Regions from separate parts of the Homo sapiens genome. Here region 2 is linked to region 1. The links come from fine-mapping of genetic effects on gene expression. Tissue or cell type: lung. Region 1 holds a variant in brackets; the other region holds the start of a gene. All regions are shown on one strand. Distances are between the middles of the regions.

Region 1 (8,106 bases):
GAGTTGGCAACTGCACACAGGAAAAGTTGCCTAATTTCCACCTCTATAGTCATTTTCAAGAACAAATTAAACTTTGTATTTTCAAAATTTAAAAAATTCTAAATTTAAAACCTATGTGTATACCTCTTGCTTTCTCTAGCCCAACACCTGATATGGTCAGGATACTCAGTAAATATTTGAGAAATAAATGAATGAATATTTTGGCTTTCTTACATGGAATCTTAGTTTGCTAGGAACCTTAGATCAGATGTGGCATAATGGCAGTTTATGGGCTGAGTCTGCCTTGCAGATATGTTTTATTTGGCCTGAACATTGTTATTAAAATATTTGGACTACGTGTCAATATTTTAAAATCAAGAGGTTTCACACAAAACTGAGCAGATCTAATAACAACATCCACATTCCTACATGTCAACAGTCCGCTGGAGCTGGGTAGTGTGGAGGCATGAACGCTCTAGTATGCCCCAGTCCCCAACACTCCCACGTAACTCACAGCTATTATATAATTTTAGCCTAAGATCAGAGATAATCTAGAATTTCCTCCTCCTTAAAACCTGCGCTAAATTTCCTATCAGGTAATGATAAAAAGATCATCCAGGTATTAGTCACTGACCTCCTCAGATGAGCAAATTTCCAATTGTTAAATAAGGACATAAAGATATCCTCAGATTCCTATATACAAATCTCACAACCTGTCTTTGGGGTAAGGATGTTTGTGTGACAAGTGCATGTGACTTTCAGTGCCTCTCATGAATTGACGGCTGCTTTGGTGGAGTCAGATTGATGCTTCCCTTTGAACTAACTACAAAAAAAAAAAGCACTTGCCCAGCAAATTTATCCTGTGCACATTTTAAGATTGAGATTTAAATTCCTTATAGGTTAAATGAGTTCAATTTCCCACAGGCACCATGAAAGTGTACCTTTAAATGTAATGTATAGGCTTGTTATAGATTCTTCTTTGCTATTCAGTAAAGTAGACCTTCCCCTCCATTTAGGATCTTGATTACCATGTGTTTAGTGAATAACTATGTGTAATTAAGATTTTTCTCTAGGCCAGGTGCGGTGGCTCATGCCTGTAATCCCAGCACTTTGGGAGGCCAAGGTGGGTGGATCACGAGATCAGGAGTTTGACACCAGCCTGGCCAACACAGTGAAACCCCATCTCTACTAAAAATACAAAAAAAAAAAAAAATTAGCCGGGCATGGTGGCATGCACCTGTAATCCCAGCTACTCAGGAGGCTGAGGCAGGAGAATCACTTGAACCTGGGAGGTGGAGGTTGCAGTGAGCTGAGATAGCACCACTGCACTCCAGCCTGGCCAGCACAGCCAGACTCCATCTCAAAAACAAAACAAAACAAAACAAAACAAACAAACAAACAAAACAGATCAACAAAGAAAAACTTTTCTCTAATTTTACTCTACTTTCTCCATTCACCTCTCATCTCCCTGGTTACTCCAATTTTTTTAATTTCTCTTTGTGGGATCATAGCCCTACATGTTAACACACTACCTGGACACATAGCATTCATTTAGCAGATGTTTATTGAATGAATAAGAAATAAGAGAATGAGAGGTGCTTTTCTATGCATACATGATCACCAAATACTCTCCTGGCCAGAGCCAACAACAGAATGGTTGTGGGAACTCTTTTCCTCACCTATTGAGTAGCCCGGGTGTGAGAGTCAGTATTAGGTTCTAATAATCATGAGAGCTCTATGGCGATATTTTCAGGTTCATTTAACTTCTCCACAAGTAATTTACATAATAAGGTAAATCACATTGTAAAACAGGCACCATTTGAAATTTGGCCAGCTCTAGCCTGGCCAGTCTCAGCATCACCGTGAACCACTGGCACATGAAGAGCCCTCTTGCCTCAGCATTCCATGACCATTTGGTGCAGTTACTGCATTAGCCACTTTTATCATTCTCCCATAGATGAACATATGCCATTTAAAAAAAACAGCTTTTTTGAGATACCATTCACATAGCATACAATCATCCACTTAAAGTGCACCATTCAGCCCGGGTGAGGTGGCTCACGCCTGTAATCCCAGCACTTTGGGAGGCCGAGGCGGGCGGATCACGAGGTCAGGAGATCGAGACCATCCTGGCTAACATGGTGAAACCCCGTCTTTACTAAAAATACAAAAAATTAGCCGAGCATGGTGGCAGGCGCCTGTAGTCCCAGCTACTCAGGAGGCTGAGGCAGGAGAATGGCGTGAACCTGGAGGTGGGGAGCGGAGCTTGCAGTGAACCGAGATCATGCCACTGCACTCCAGCCTGGGCAACAGAGTGAGACTCTGTCTCAAAAAAAAAAAAAAAAAAAGAAAAGAAAAAAAGAAAAAGAAAACAAAAATGCGCCATTCATTGGTTTGTTCTTTTAGCATATTCACAGAGTCGTATAACCATCATGATCAATTTTAGAACATTTTCATCACCTCAAAAAGAAACCTCATGCCCATTAGCTGTCACTCTCCATCTCCCTTCAACCTTCCCAGCTGTATTAACCTGTTTAGGCTGCTCTAACAAAATACCACAGACTAGGTGGCTTAAACAACAGAGACTTATTTTTGCACAATTCCGGAGGCTTAGAAGTCCCAGATCAGGGTCTTGAGGGGTTAGTTTCTGGTAAAGACTTTCTTGCTGGCTTACAGACAACAGCTTCTCTCTGTGTGTTCTCACGGTGACTGGTTGGGGAAGGAGGTGTTGCAGCAGCTCTCTGGTATCTCTTCTTATAGGGACACCAATCCTATCAGATCAGGGTTCCACCCTTATGACCTCATTTGACTTTAATGATCTCCTTACAGGCCCTGTCTCCAATTATAGTCACTCTGGGGGTGAGGGCTTCAACGTATGAGTTGGAGGCACACATTCCAGTCCATAACACCAGCCCTAGGCAACCACTAATCTACTTTCTGTCTCTACAGATTTGACTGTTCTGTACGTTTCATATATTGTATGGAATTGTATAATACATGGCCTTTTGTATCTGGCTTCTTACACTTAGTATGATGTTTTCAAGGGTCATTCACGTTGTAGTACTACGTTTTTTTTCACAGCTGATAATATTCAATTGTATGGGTATACCACATTTGTCTTATCCATTCATTAGCTGGTGAACATTAGACTTGTTCGTACTTTTGTTATTATGAATAATGCTGTTATAAATGTTCGTGTACAAGCATTTGGGTGGACATACATCTGCTGCATCATATGGTAACTTTATGTTTAACTTTTTGAGAAATTGCACAACTATTTTCCAAAAGGGTTGTATCATTTTACATTCCTACCAGCAGTGTATGAGAGTTCTAGTTGCTCTATATTCTCATCAGTACTTGTTATTATCTGTGTTTTTTTATTATTGCCATCCTGCTGGCTGTGAAATGGTATCTCATTCTGGATTTGATTTGCATTTCCCTAATGGATAATAGTATTGAGCATTTTTTCATGAGCTTTTTGGCCATTTTTATATAATCTTTGGAAAAATGTCTATCCAGATCACTTGCCCATTTTAAAAAATTTATTTATTTTTATTTTTATTTTTTTGAGATGGAGCTCTGTCACCCAGGCTGGAGTGCATTGGCACAATCTCAGCTCACTGCAATCTCTGCCTCCTAAGTTCAAAGGATCCTCCCACCTTAGCCTCACGTGTAGCTGGGACTGCAGATGTGCGCCACCATGCCCGGCTAATTTTTGTATTTTTAGTAGAGACGGGGTTTCGCCATGTTGGCCAGGCTGGTCTGGAACTCCTGACCTCAGGTGATCTGCCTGCTTCAGCCTCCCAAAAGTGCTGAGATTACAGGCATGGGCCACTGTGCCCAGCCACTTGACCATTTTTATTTTTTATTTTTTATTTTTTATTTTTTTTTTTGAGACAGTCTCACTCTGTTGATCAGGCTGGAGTCTAGCGGCGTGATCTCAGCTCACTGCAACCTCTGCCTCCTGAGTTCAAACAAATTTCATGTCTCAGCCTCCTGAGTAGCTGGGATTACAGGCATGCACCACCACGCCCGGCTAATTTTTGTATTTTTAGTGGAGACAGGGTTTCACCATGTTGGCCAGGCTGGTCTCAAACTCCTGACCTCAGGTGACCCACCCACCTTGGCCTCCCAAAGTGCTGGGATTACAGGTGTGAGTCACCACGCCTGGCCCATTTTTAAATTGGGTTATTTGTCATATATTATTGAGTTGTAAGAGATTTTTATGTATTCTAGATATGAAACTCTTATGAGATACATGATTTACAAATATTTCCTCCCAATCTGTGGTTTGTCTTCTCACTAGTGTCCTTCGCAGCACAAATGTTTTTAATTTTAATGAAGTCCAAGTAATCTACTTTTTTATTTTGTTGCTTATTGCTTTGATATCTTATCTAAGAAACCATTGCCTAATCCAGAATCAGAAGGATTTATGCCTATGTTTTCTTCCAAATGTTTTATAGTGTAGTTCTTATATCTAGGTCTTTGATTCACTTTGAGTTTTTATATATAATGGGAGATCACATGCTGTTTTTGAAAACGAGTTAAAGTGGTAAACAATCAGGAGTTTAAAAATATGCATCTATCTTTGGTTTTACTGACAATC[A/G]TGTGATATTTTGTTAAACATACCATTTAATAGAAAGAAAACAAACTTTAACCTCTAATGAGGCTGATATTCTCAATATTTACTTTAAAAATGTGATAAGCTTAGAGTTATTAGAAAAGGCCTTTGACATTTTTGTTTTTACAAATCAACTGCTTTCAATAAAGACTTGAATAAATGAAGCCATATTTTTATGTTATGTAAATAATATTTTTGAAATACATTAAAAAATCTGTATTATATAACATGTTATAATTATATGGCTTTTTGTTTAATGCAGTGGCTCTCAATCAGGGGCAATTTTGCCCCTCAAAGGAAATTTGGTGGCTGGGCATGGAGGCTAATGCCTATAATTCCAGCACTTTGGGAGGCCGAGGCTGGTGGATCACCTGAGGTCAGGAGTTCAAGACCAGCCTGACCAACATGGTGAAACCCCGCCTCTACTAGAAATACAAAAATTAGCCGGGCATGGTGGTGGGCATCTGTAGTCCCAGCTACTGGGGAGGCTGAGACAGAATTGCTTGAACCCGGGAGGCAGAAGTTGCAGTGAGCCGAGATCACGCCACTGCACTCCAGCCTGGGCAACAAAGTGAGACTCCATCTCAAAAAAAAAAAAAAAAAAGGAAGAAAATAAAAGAAATGTGGCAATGTTTGGAGACATTTTTGGTTGTCACAACTGGGGGCAGTGCTACTAGCATCTAGGAGATAGAGAGCAGAAAGGCTGCTAAACAATCTCCAGTGGGTAGAGTGGCCTCCACAACAAGGAAGTGTCCAGCCCAGAATGTCAGTTGTGCTGAGGTTGAGAAACTCTGCTTTAACTAAATCCGTGGCCTCTACCAGATAGATTCGAAAAGAGATGAGAGTTTGCAAACCCTTCTCCCCTCAGTTACAACCCCTGAATTTCTTCTATCGCAATACTTAGCCTTTCTGGGGCCAGAACATGCCCCAGCATCTTACTGCCATTAAAACCCTTTATGGTAATGAAAATCTGTAGGCCTTCCCTGTGGGGATCCTTAAGAAGCATGAGCACTTGCTTTCACTGCTTAATTCATTTTATAATTGTGTGTTTTAGTTTTTTGAATTTATATTTGGATAATACATTCCCTGTTAAACATACATATTTGGGTAACCAATCTCCTATTAACATATATTCTACCTGATTATATAACAATAGAAGGGATCATAAGTAATAATTTTTGACCGTTTACTATGTTAGGCACTGTGCTGAGCACATTTTCTGCATTATCTAGTTTAATTTTCTCAACCACTCTATGAGAGAGCAACTCTCATTATTCACATTTTACAGCCATGGAAACTGAGGCACAATGAGATTTAGGGGACTTGCCCAAGATTGTGTAGTTGTATCATTATTACTCCAAGTCAGGGCTTAAGCCTGATGTAGGGTCAACTGTGAAGTGCAGGCATGTCACAAAGACTTTGGATTATTCATTATGGGTAGTCACACATTGATGTTTGCAGGGCAGTGAGGTATTGTCTCACTCTCTTGCATCACCATAAGCTCCCTGCTGTGGAAGAGAAGGCGTGGGCACACACAGCTAGCTACAGGAAGTCCCATCAAACCTGGGACATGCCCACAGAAGCATGGCTCACCTGGGAGCATCACCTGTCCTGCCTATCATGGTGGACAATATCTGAGAACTGCTGCTTAAGGAAAAGTGGGATGTGTGGAGCATCACTTATGTTCCTGATGCCCCCCACCCCAAAGTCAGTCAGGCCTTGATTTTCTACCTACTGTCCTCTCATAAAAAGCTCCAACTCCCAGTGTCTCTTTTGATCTGTGGCCTAAATCTCTCTGCAAGTACACCAGCACCACCTGCCAAGCCCATTATCTGTCTGTCCGGGCTCTGTGCTGGGTGGGCCCTGCTCACTTACAGCCCTCCCAGAGGCAGGATCACACCCCGGTCTCCTGATCTTACAGCCACTACTCTTACTGAAACAGCACTGTGGTGTTATGCATAGTACACCTTTTAAAAAATGATGCATTAGTTAGGCCAGATGTGGTGGTTCATGCCTGTAATCCCAGGGCTTAGGAAGGCCGAGGTGGGTGGATCATGAGGTCAGGAGTTCAAGACCAGCCTAGCCAATATGGTGAAACCCTGTCTTTACTAAAAATACAAAAATTAGCCAGGTGTGGTGGCATGCGCCTGTAGTCCCAGCTACTCGGGAGGCTGAGGCAGAAGAATTGCTTGAACCCGGGAGGTGGAGGTTGCATTGAGCCGAGATCACACCACTGCACTCCAGCCTTGGTGACAGAGAAAGACTCTGTCTCAAAAAAAAAAAGTAAAAAAAATTAAAAAGATTCCTTAAACAGTAGTATTCCCTCCCAAGCTGTATCCCTCTATGTGCCAGGCATACAGTGATCTTCATATCCCTGATAACAGTCCCCTCACAGAGGCAGCTTTCAGAAAAGGATATGGAGTTTGTGACAGTGACTGAAGATATGCATTTTAATGGTACAAAGATTGAAAGTGGGGCTGGGAACGGTAATCCCAGCACTTTGGGAGGCCAAGGCAGGCAGATCACTTGAGTTTGGGAGTTCGAGATCAGCCTGGCCAATATGGTGAAACACTGTCTCTATTAAAAATACAAAAAATTAGCCGGGCGTGGTGTCAGGCACCTGTAATCCCAGCCACTCAGGAGGCTGAGGCAGGAGAATCGCTTGAACCTGGGAGGCAGAGGTTGCAGTGAGCCGAGATTGCGCCACTGCATTCCAGCCTGGGTGCAACAGAGCGAGAGTCCATCTCAAAAAAAAAAAAAAAAAGGTTGGAGGTGGAATGACTCTTCAGTTTAGTCAGTTTGAGGGTGCATATCTTTTGGGTGATGTTCTGCCCATACCAGCCACCCATGTATTCCTCTAGCTCTGCAAATGCAGGGAACAGGGAGCACACAACGATTAGAAATGGTCATCCTCCTCTCGTAAATCTGAAGAAGAACGCTGGTTTTTGTTCTAGATCTGTCCTGAAATTCCTTGGGCAAATCTTTCCTTGCTCTGTGCCTCAGTTCCCCTAATGGGAGAGTGTGTGCACTGATGATCTCTAAGCATCCTTGCAGCTATAAACTTCTTTGACTCCCTAAGGTACTGGGGGCTGAGTTAAAGTGAAGCCCATGAGGATAACTCCAATCCCCCCAATAGGAATCTGCTTTAGCAGTAAGCCCACACCTAGAAGCCTGCTTATGTTTGAAGAAGAGAAGGGAACAATTGGTTGATGTTATGTTTCTTGAGATACCCATCTCCAGGGGCGACGTTCAAAATATTTAACCACCAGTGTGTTGTGAGCACAGACCCGTCAGGAGGTTAGAAGGCAGCGGGTAGGGCCAGCAGGGACTGTGGCCAGAGAGCATGCCCCGTCCTCCTCTTAGCTCTGCAGGGCACTGCTCACCTCGCTGCTTTCCTGGGCCTTTCTCCAGCTTTTTTTTTGGTCTGCCTCTTCCTGCCTGATTCTCCATCCAGGGCCCCAGCTTAACCCTCTTTTGGCTTCTTCTCTCTCCGGAGCCACCTGATA
Region 2 (8,106 bases), 41 kb before region 1:
GATTTGTAGTGTCTGAAAATTCTCATATTGTAAATGGTCCCACCATTGTTGATTTTCAGCTAATAATATGACAAGACTGAATGTGGAGTTGGGAAGAGACTCACCTAAGCAGCTCTTGAGACCGCATATGACAGGCTCTCCAGCACACCACCGTCTGAGCATCCACAGCCGTCAGAATGGCATCTTACACACATCAGGCACTCCTTTTGTGCTTGCTAATTGATGGGCAGATAGATTGGCAGACAGGTTATAGGCTTTAGCAGTGGTCCAAAGATGAGGTGGGGAGGCCCTGGACTAAGAGTGGAGCAATGGTGTTGAAGAAAAAGTGTTGATGACCTTGTAAAGTTTTTAATTACAATTATTAGACAGCTTAGATACAGATTGGGAAGAGTGAAGCCAAGTCTTAAGGTATGAGAGCCTAGGACCTTACTCAGATGGAGTGGGGGAGTGGGAAGCTTAAAAATTTGATTTTGAACACACTGAATTTGAGCTAATAGACTTCCATGTGAAGATATGCAGAATCTTGGAAATGTGGAATAAACTTCAGGGGCAAAAACCAGGCTGGAAATAAAAATTCTCAATGTCATTTGTTTGTTTTTATTTGAGAAAAATCCAGAAACAAATGAGAACAGAAAGAGGAAGGTAGAGACCAAATATTTGAAGTTTTTCATTTTAAACATGTCAAAATTATCTCTAGCTTTTTAAAACTCAGTATTTACAACAAGTGATTCAAAATTCAGGAGTGCTGAATGCCAGTGATTTATCACTTATGATGAAATAAAAATATCCCAACACAGAAATGTTTAAGTGAAATAAACTGGTATGTTTTTAATAATTGTTTCATTCTCTAATAAAAAAATGGAAAAATCCTCAAATTGTCTACAGGTTAGGAAAAGGTTTCTATTTCACTGACTTTAGAAATGTTTCCATTACTTTTATTTATTTATTTATTTATTTATTTATTTATTTATTTTTTGCAAGGCAGAAGAATTTTTCTTAGTACAGAACAAAATGGAGTCTCCCATGTCTACTTCTTTCTACACAGACACAGCAACAATCTGATTTCTCTTTCCTTTCCCCACACTTCCCCCGCTTCCACTCGACAAAACCGCCATCGTCATCATGGCCCGTTCTCAATGAGCTGCTGGGTACACTTCCCAGATGGGGTGGCGGCCGGGCAGAGGGGCCCCCCCACCTCCCAGACAGGGCGGCTGGGCAGAGGCGCCCCCCCACCTCCCTCCCGGACGGGGCGGCTGGCCGGGCGGGGGCTGCCCCCCACCTCCTGGAGGGGGCGTCTGCTGGGCGGAGACGCTCCTCACTTCCCAGATGGGGCGGCTGCCAGGCGGAGGGGCTCCTCACTTCTCAGACGGGGCGGCTGGGCAGAGACGCTCCTCACCTCCCAGACGGGGTGGTGGTCGGGCAGAGACACTCCTCAGTTTCCAGACGGGGTCGCGGCGGGGCAGAGGCGCTTCTCACATCCCAGACGGGGCAGTGGGGCAGAGGCGCTCCCCACATCTCAGACGATGGGCGGCCGGGCAGAGACGCTCCTCACTTCCTAGACGGGATGGCGGCCGGGAAGAGGCGCTCCTCACTTCCCAGACTGGGCTGCTGGGCAGAGGGGCTCCTCACATCCTAGACGATGGGTGGCCAGGCAGAGATGCTCCTCACTTCCCAGACGGGGTGGCGGCCGGGCAGAGGCTGCAATCTCGGCACTTTGGGAGGCCAAGGCAGGCGGCTGGGAGGTGGAGGTTATAGCGAGCCGAGATCACGCCACTGCACTCCAGCCTGGGCAACATTGAGCACTGAGTGAGCGAGACTCCGTCTGCAATCCCGGCACCTCGGGAGGCCGAGGCTAGCAGATCACTCGTGGTTAGGAGCTGGAGACCAGCCCGGCCAACATGGCGAAACCCCATCTCCACCAAAAAAATACGAAAACCAGTCAGGCGTGGCGGCGTGCGCCTGCAATCCCAGGCACTCGGCAGGCTGAAGCAGGAGAATCAGGCAGGGAGGTTGCAGTGAGCCGAGATGGCGGCACTACAGTCCAGCCTCCGCTGGGCATCAGAGGGAGACCGTGGAGAGAGAGGGAGAGGGAGAGGGAGACTGTGGGGAGAGGGAGAGGGGGAGGGGGAGGGGGAGGAGTCCATTACTTTTTAAAATAAAGCAATAGATTGTTTCTTGATGTAACCACAAAATTAGTGCTAAGTCAGTGTGACACAAACAAATGAAATGTGAATGAACCCTTCCTCATACCATATTCAAAAGTCAATTCCAGATGGATTGAAAACCTAAACATTGGCCGGGCATGGTGGCTCATGCCTGTAATCCCAGCACTTTGAGGTGGGCGGATCACTTAAGGCCAGGAGTTTGAGACCAGCCTGGGCAACGTGGCAAAACCCTGTCTTTACCAAAAAATTAGCTGGATGTGGTGGTGCACAACTGTAGTTCTAGCTATTCAGGAGGCTGAGGTGGGAGGATCACCTGAGCCTGGGAGGCAGAGGTTGTAGTGAGCCGAGATCGCGCCACTGCACTCCAGCCTGGATGACAGAGACCCTGTCTCAAAAAAAAAAAACAAACAAACAAAAAAAAAAAACAAAAAACTAAACATGAGGCTGGGCACAGTGGCTCGCGCCTGTAATACCAGCACTTTGGGAGGCTGAGGCGGGAGGATTGCTTGAGCATAGGAGTTTCAGACCAGCCTGGGCAATATAGCAAGTCCCCTATCTCTACAAAAAACATTTTTTTAAATAGCTGGGCATGGTGGCTCATGCCTGTAATCCCAGCACTTTGAGGGGCTGATGTGGGGGTTAAGGGGTTGGCTTGAGCCCAGGAGGTTGAGGCTGCAATGAGCCGTGATCACACCACTTTACTCCAGCCTGGCCAACAAAGCGCAAGACTCTATCTCAAAAACAAAAACAAAAACAAACAAACAAAAAACCTAAACATGAAAGGCTAAGGTGGGAAGATAACATAGGAAGATAACTTTATAACCCAGGAACAGGAAAGAGTTCTTAAACAGGACACAGAGTGCTGCCAATAAGGGAAAAGATTGCCAGACTGTATTTAAGAACACCTGTTTATCAAAATACGTTAATAAGGTGAAAAGGCAAAAGAGTGGAATATAACTGAGGATACACACACCATTGAATCTATTCAATACACAGGACTATCCAGAAGAAAAATGGACAATAAATCTGAACAATTCACAAAACAAATCCAACTGGCCAATAAATATGAAGTGATACTCAACACATTAGGATATAGGGAAATGCAAGTTTGAACCTCAATGAGATACCATTACTCACATATCAGAATTTCTAAAGTGTTTCAATTTTTGTAACTTCAAGTGTTGTTGAAGATGGGAAACTGCACTGTACAATGGTACTATAACTTTGGAAGAGTTCAGGCTTATCTCTGCCGAAGTTGAGGTTAGGCTTTCTCTATCACCCAGCACTTCCAACAGCAGGCTGTGCGCGTGGACAGGAGGATTCTGGCAAGGAATGTTCGCAGCAGCACTATTTGTAATAGCTAAAACCTGGAAACAACCTAAATGCCCATTAATAGTCAAATGGATTTTTTTTTAAACTGTGGCATATTCATACAGTGAAAAACTACAGCTGCATAAAACCACAGATTAACAACAGATTTGAACAAATGAAGACATACTACAGAGGGAAGAAAAAAAACAAGGACATGATCACCGTAAGGGTCAAGAAAGTGATCATCTTTAGAAGGGAGTTGGGACCCAGGAGGGACAGGTTGGCTTCTGGGCTGTAGGCAATGTTCTCTGAGTGACTGGTTGCACAGGTGTTCACGTTGTAAAAAGTCATGAAGCTGCACATTTATTTTGTTTACACATACAACATAACTTATGTTGTATGTTCTTATATGTTCGATTCACAACAAAAATGTTTTAAAATAATCTGAAATATTAGATCACTGCTTATTTTTAAATGTATGGCATATACCCCTTGAAAAGAGCGTTCTCATTGTGAGGACTTTAGAGAAATTCATTTTCTTGAGAAACAAAATTTGGTTAATGAGTGTTTCTCATTAATAATCTATACATCAGGATTAAGAGCTGATTTTATTAAGGTCTACCCTACCAAAAGCTTTCCCATAATAATCCAAAATAAGACGTTTTCCTATTTCTATATAAATTCCTTTGCATGAGACATTTGTTTATTAAAACACTTAAAATTGTATTTGGAATAAACCACCTAAAGTGGTTTGTTCTGAAAAAAAAAAAAAAAAAAAAAAGCCTTTTAAGAACTTGGGTCTTTTTGTTGTGGTCATTTAAAATCAGTATTTTAGACACTCCACTCGCTCTCAGTGTAGAGAGAATGTATTCGATTGCGTGTTGGAACTACGTGTAGACAAAACGATCGCGGTTAAAGCTTGCGGCTCAGAGCCCACCTGGCCGCGCTGCTGGGAAACGGACGGAGCGGCGCTTCAATCAGAGGTGAAGGTGCAGCAGCTGCTTAGCTGGCTTTGGTCCATCACTTCTGGGGACTTCAGATTCTCAAAATCTTAAATTCTAAACCCCACAGGAATGCAAATCTGCCCACCTTTTCCCACATAACTCTACCGTCGCTCAAACTCTTCCTGGTACCAGCGGGGAAGCGGAGGAGACCCAGGCAGGGGCCCGCGCTCGCTCGGCTGCAGCCCGACTCCCCTGCGCTCCCGGCCCAGGGCCGCGTCCCGACGGGGAAGTGCGCTGCGCCCGGGCGCCCCCGAGTGGAGGGGGGGGGAAGGAGGGAGCCGGCGGCGGGCGGGGCGGGGCGCGGTGACAGCCGAGCCGGGCCCGCCCCTGGCTCCCACCCCCGAGCCCACAGCTCCCGCCCGCCCGCGGCCGCCCGGGAGCTCGTCCAGCCCCGCGCTGCGCTCGCCCGCCCGCTGCCCGCCGGAGCACCGCGGCCTCCGCCCGCGTCCATCTGCCCGCCGCCCGCGCCTGTTCCGCAGCCCGCGTCCGCGCCGGCCCCACAGCTCTGCGTCCGGGTAAGCCCCCACCCCGCCTGGGGTCCCCCTCGCGCTCGCGGGGCTCCCTGCCCCCGCTCCGGGGCCTCAGCCATATCTGGGCAAAATATTCAGCTGTCGCCGCCGCCGCCAAGAGGGACTGAGCGTGGCTCCCTCTATAAATAGCTGCCGCCTCGGGTTGCCTCTGGGGCTAGGGAGCCCGGGTCTCGGGGTTCCGAGCCCAGCGCTCCCGTCCCCGCCTCCCCGCGCGCGCAGCCCTGGCCAGGGCGCCCTCCGCTCTGGACCTCCGCACCGCGTCTGTGAACGCGAGAAGGACCCGGGGTTCTGGAGGAGACGGCGCCCCGGGCTGGGGTCCTGGCGGAGGGGCGCCCCCGCCACCCGCAGGACTCCAGCGCGGCGGGGCTCTGAGCCCGCGGGGTGCTCAGCTGGGTACAGGTGCCAGCCGGAGCTGGGCTCGGGGGCGCGGCCTCTTCTCCGCCTGCAAGAGTCTGGGGGTGGGAGTGGGGGAGTAAAGGCTCGACTGGACGTGGATCCCAGGTTCGCGCTGAGAGTGTTTGGGGCAGGTGAAGTTTCCCAAACTGGGAGAGACAAGGTTTAAAGCACCACGACACGCGCTACGCGGCCAAGTGGAGCTGGAAAGAGCTTGGAGGCGGGAGCCCCAGGTTGTCGCCGGCTCTCGGCATGGCCTTGGCAATCCCCCTCTTGTTTCTGGATCTCAGTCTCCCATTTGTAGGGGCGAGGTTTGGTAGCCGCGATGGAGCTGGGAGCCCAAGCCCTGAGAGCTGCAGGGCGCGCTCTTGGCCGCCTGCGCTCCCCACACCTGTTCACCCTCTCCGGGCCTGGGACGCTGGGGTCCCAGCCGCGCACATGCGGAGACGCTGCAGAAATCGGAGACTGACTGCCCCAGACTCGATCGTATCCTGGGACTCACTAAGGCCGTCGGATATCCTAAGCCGTACAACCCTAGGAAGTGCACTTTTGGGGTGCCTATGGGCATCTCTCTGCTCCGTAGCCGGCAAAGCAGCCTGTGAGCCACGCAGCTTCAGATGCGATGAGCTGGGCAGGGGCAGTGGTTCCAGTACAGCCGCTCCCTGGCCACAGTTTCCCGGTCTATATCGGGCCTATGATGCGTCCTCCAACCTGCGCAGCGCCGCCCCCTCCTACACCCTTCACCCACCGCTACTATTACAGACCCTGTCTCCAGCCCTCGCCCTATGCCCTCAGACTCTCGGAGACGACCTGGCCCAAGCTCCTCCGTGTCTGAATCGCAGAACCAGACCCTGAACCCAGGTGCTGGGCCCTCAGCGTGAGAACCCCTAGGGCCCCCACCCCATCTTTCTTCCAGAGGTGACTGCCATTTTGTCCTCTGTGCAGGGCCGCAGAGCCCCCTGCTCAAGGTCACACAGGGCCGGTCACGCCAGAAGTTCTGCAGTCTCCCAGCCTTTCCCATCTCTTTCCGCACCCTTCCCACTGCTCAGGCAGGTCCGGGAGCTCTGGGAGCACCCGATCAATGCCCCCTCTTCTTGAATCTGCTGCTGTTCTGGACTTTACCTTGTCTGGACAATAGCGCCCTCATCCTGAAGTTTCCTTTTTGCTTCTACTTTACTTTCTGTTATGTGTTTTTTTCTAAAGCCATCTCAAAGACTTACAGAAAAAAGAATTAACGGGAAATGGAGTCAGATAATAAAGTTTCCATCAGTTAGAGCCACACAACCAACAGGCAGAGTGAAAACAAGAATACTGTCACTTTGGTGTATTATCTTTAATGAGCTAGTCTTACAAACCCGTGTTTTAGAGAGTCATTGACCCTTGAGTTTCTCCCAGCCTAAGATGAAAGCCAGTGTCCTCTAAAAATAGCCTCCGCCCCACCTTATCAGGGTCTCACACCTTCTCCCTCCTTCAGGGTAGGGCGTTTTCTTGCAGCTCAGCAAAAACAGAAAACACAAAGTAGGTGTGGCAGCTCTGAGCAATGGGAGGTGGACTGGCCTGGAGGTTAGGATATCTGGCTCCAGCCCCAACTCTGCCACCCACTCAGAGGAACCTTGAGCAATGAGGGGGCAGACAAGGTGGTCTCTAGTGGACCTGGAGTGGAGAGGGCTTAGAGTCTTCCTTGGAAGCCTTTCTAGCATGACCCATCCTGTAAGGAGGAGCTGGGGAAGGAGTGAGAGACAGTGGCTTTCCCAGGTGCCAAGGGAGGACAGAGGTGGGCAGTGTCACTTGCTGTGGAGAGACAGGAGTAGGGGGATGAGGACTGGGAAAAGACCATCAGGATTGGCAGGGATCATGAGTGACTTAGACCAGGGTATTGCAGCAGGCTCAAAAAATGAGATCTGCCAGTGACCCAGCCTGTCTGAGCCTCGTTTTCTCCTCATACAATGGAGACAACAATAGCCCCATTTCATAGGGGCTGCTTGTGAGAATTAAGTGAGATGATTCAGGGCAAGCCCTCAGCCCAGAGCCTGATATTGCAATGATAGTATTCGTTGTGGTGAGGGGGAAAGGCAGGAGCTAACAGGAGCTGAAGAAGTTCTCCACTTCTTCAGGCTGTAGGCTGAAGAAGGCTCTCAACAGAGCCAGCAACTCTTTCTAAAAGCTTGGATGAGAAAGGAAGGGAGAGGGAAGGTAGCAGGAACTGAGGACAAGGAACAGAAGGGAGGCAGGCATTCTAGGATAAAGAGTATGGCAAGTAGTGAGAAGAACCCAGGAGAGGGGAGAGAGTTAAAGGGGAATCTAAAAGGTGTGCCCATAATGAGGATTGGGGACCTTCCTTAGTGACTTGCAGAATGTCACAGACTCTGCAGGTGGCCTTCATCCCCTGGAATGAGCAAAAAAAGGTAAAACGAAGCAGATCCTGGCTCAGACCCCTATGTCTCTGGCAGACCAGTATCTGCGATGGAGGATGGTGATGGGCTGTGAAGAGTGTTTTGACCCTGCTCTGGGGCCTCATAACCTTGGCTTATTTATTTCTGAAATGACATCATCTATCGATGACTCCTGCTGAGCCCGGTCGTAATGGCCTTTTCCAGTCAATGTTTTGACTTTTCAGTCTTACTAATGGACCAGCCAGGCTGCCAACATTTCTAAAGAGGCCAGTTTACTTTTCCCTTAAAGCCAGAACACCAGATAAATCAA

What was found. PIP is the estimated chance that this variant, and not a neighbour inherited with it, causes the effect.
Region 2: it holds the start of TMOD1, and the variant in region 1 is fine-mapped to the expression of TMOD1 in lung (TOPMed, PIP 0.95).

What each region holds. Positions count from the first base shown.
Region 1 is chr9:97,537,664-97,545,769 of GRCh38, forward strand. The region is part of intron 2 of TMOD1 (tropomodulin 1); the gene reads left to right. Among named protein-coding and RNA genes, the nearest start is that of TMOD1-AS1, 25 kb to the left of the region's middle. The variant A/G (reference allele first, on the strand shown) is at 4,586.
Region 2 is chr9:97,496,809-97,504,914 of GRCh38, forward strand. It overlaps TMOD1 (tropomodulin 1), which reads left to right and starts at 4,858. Exons shown (of 10, transcript NM_003275.4): 1 at 4,858-4,995. RefSeq lists a silencer at 4,675-5,394, an enhancer at 6,781-6,925 and a cis regulatory region at 6,844-6,861.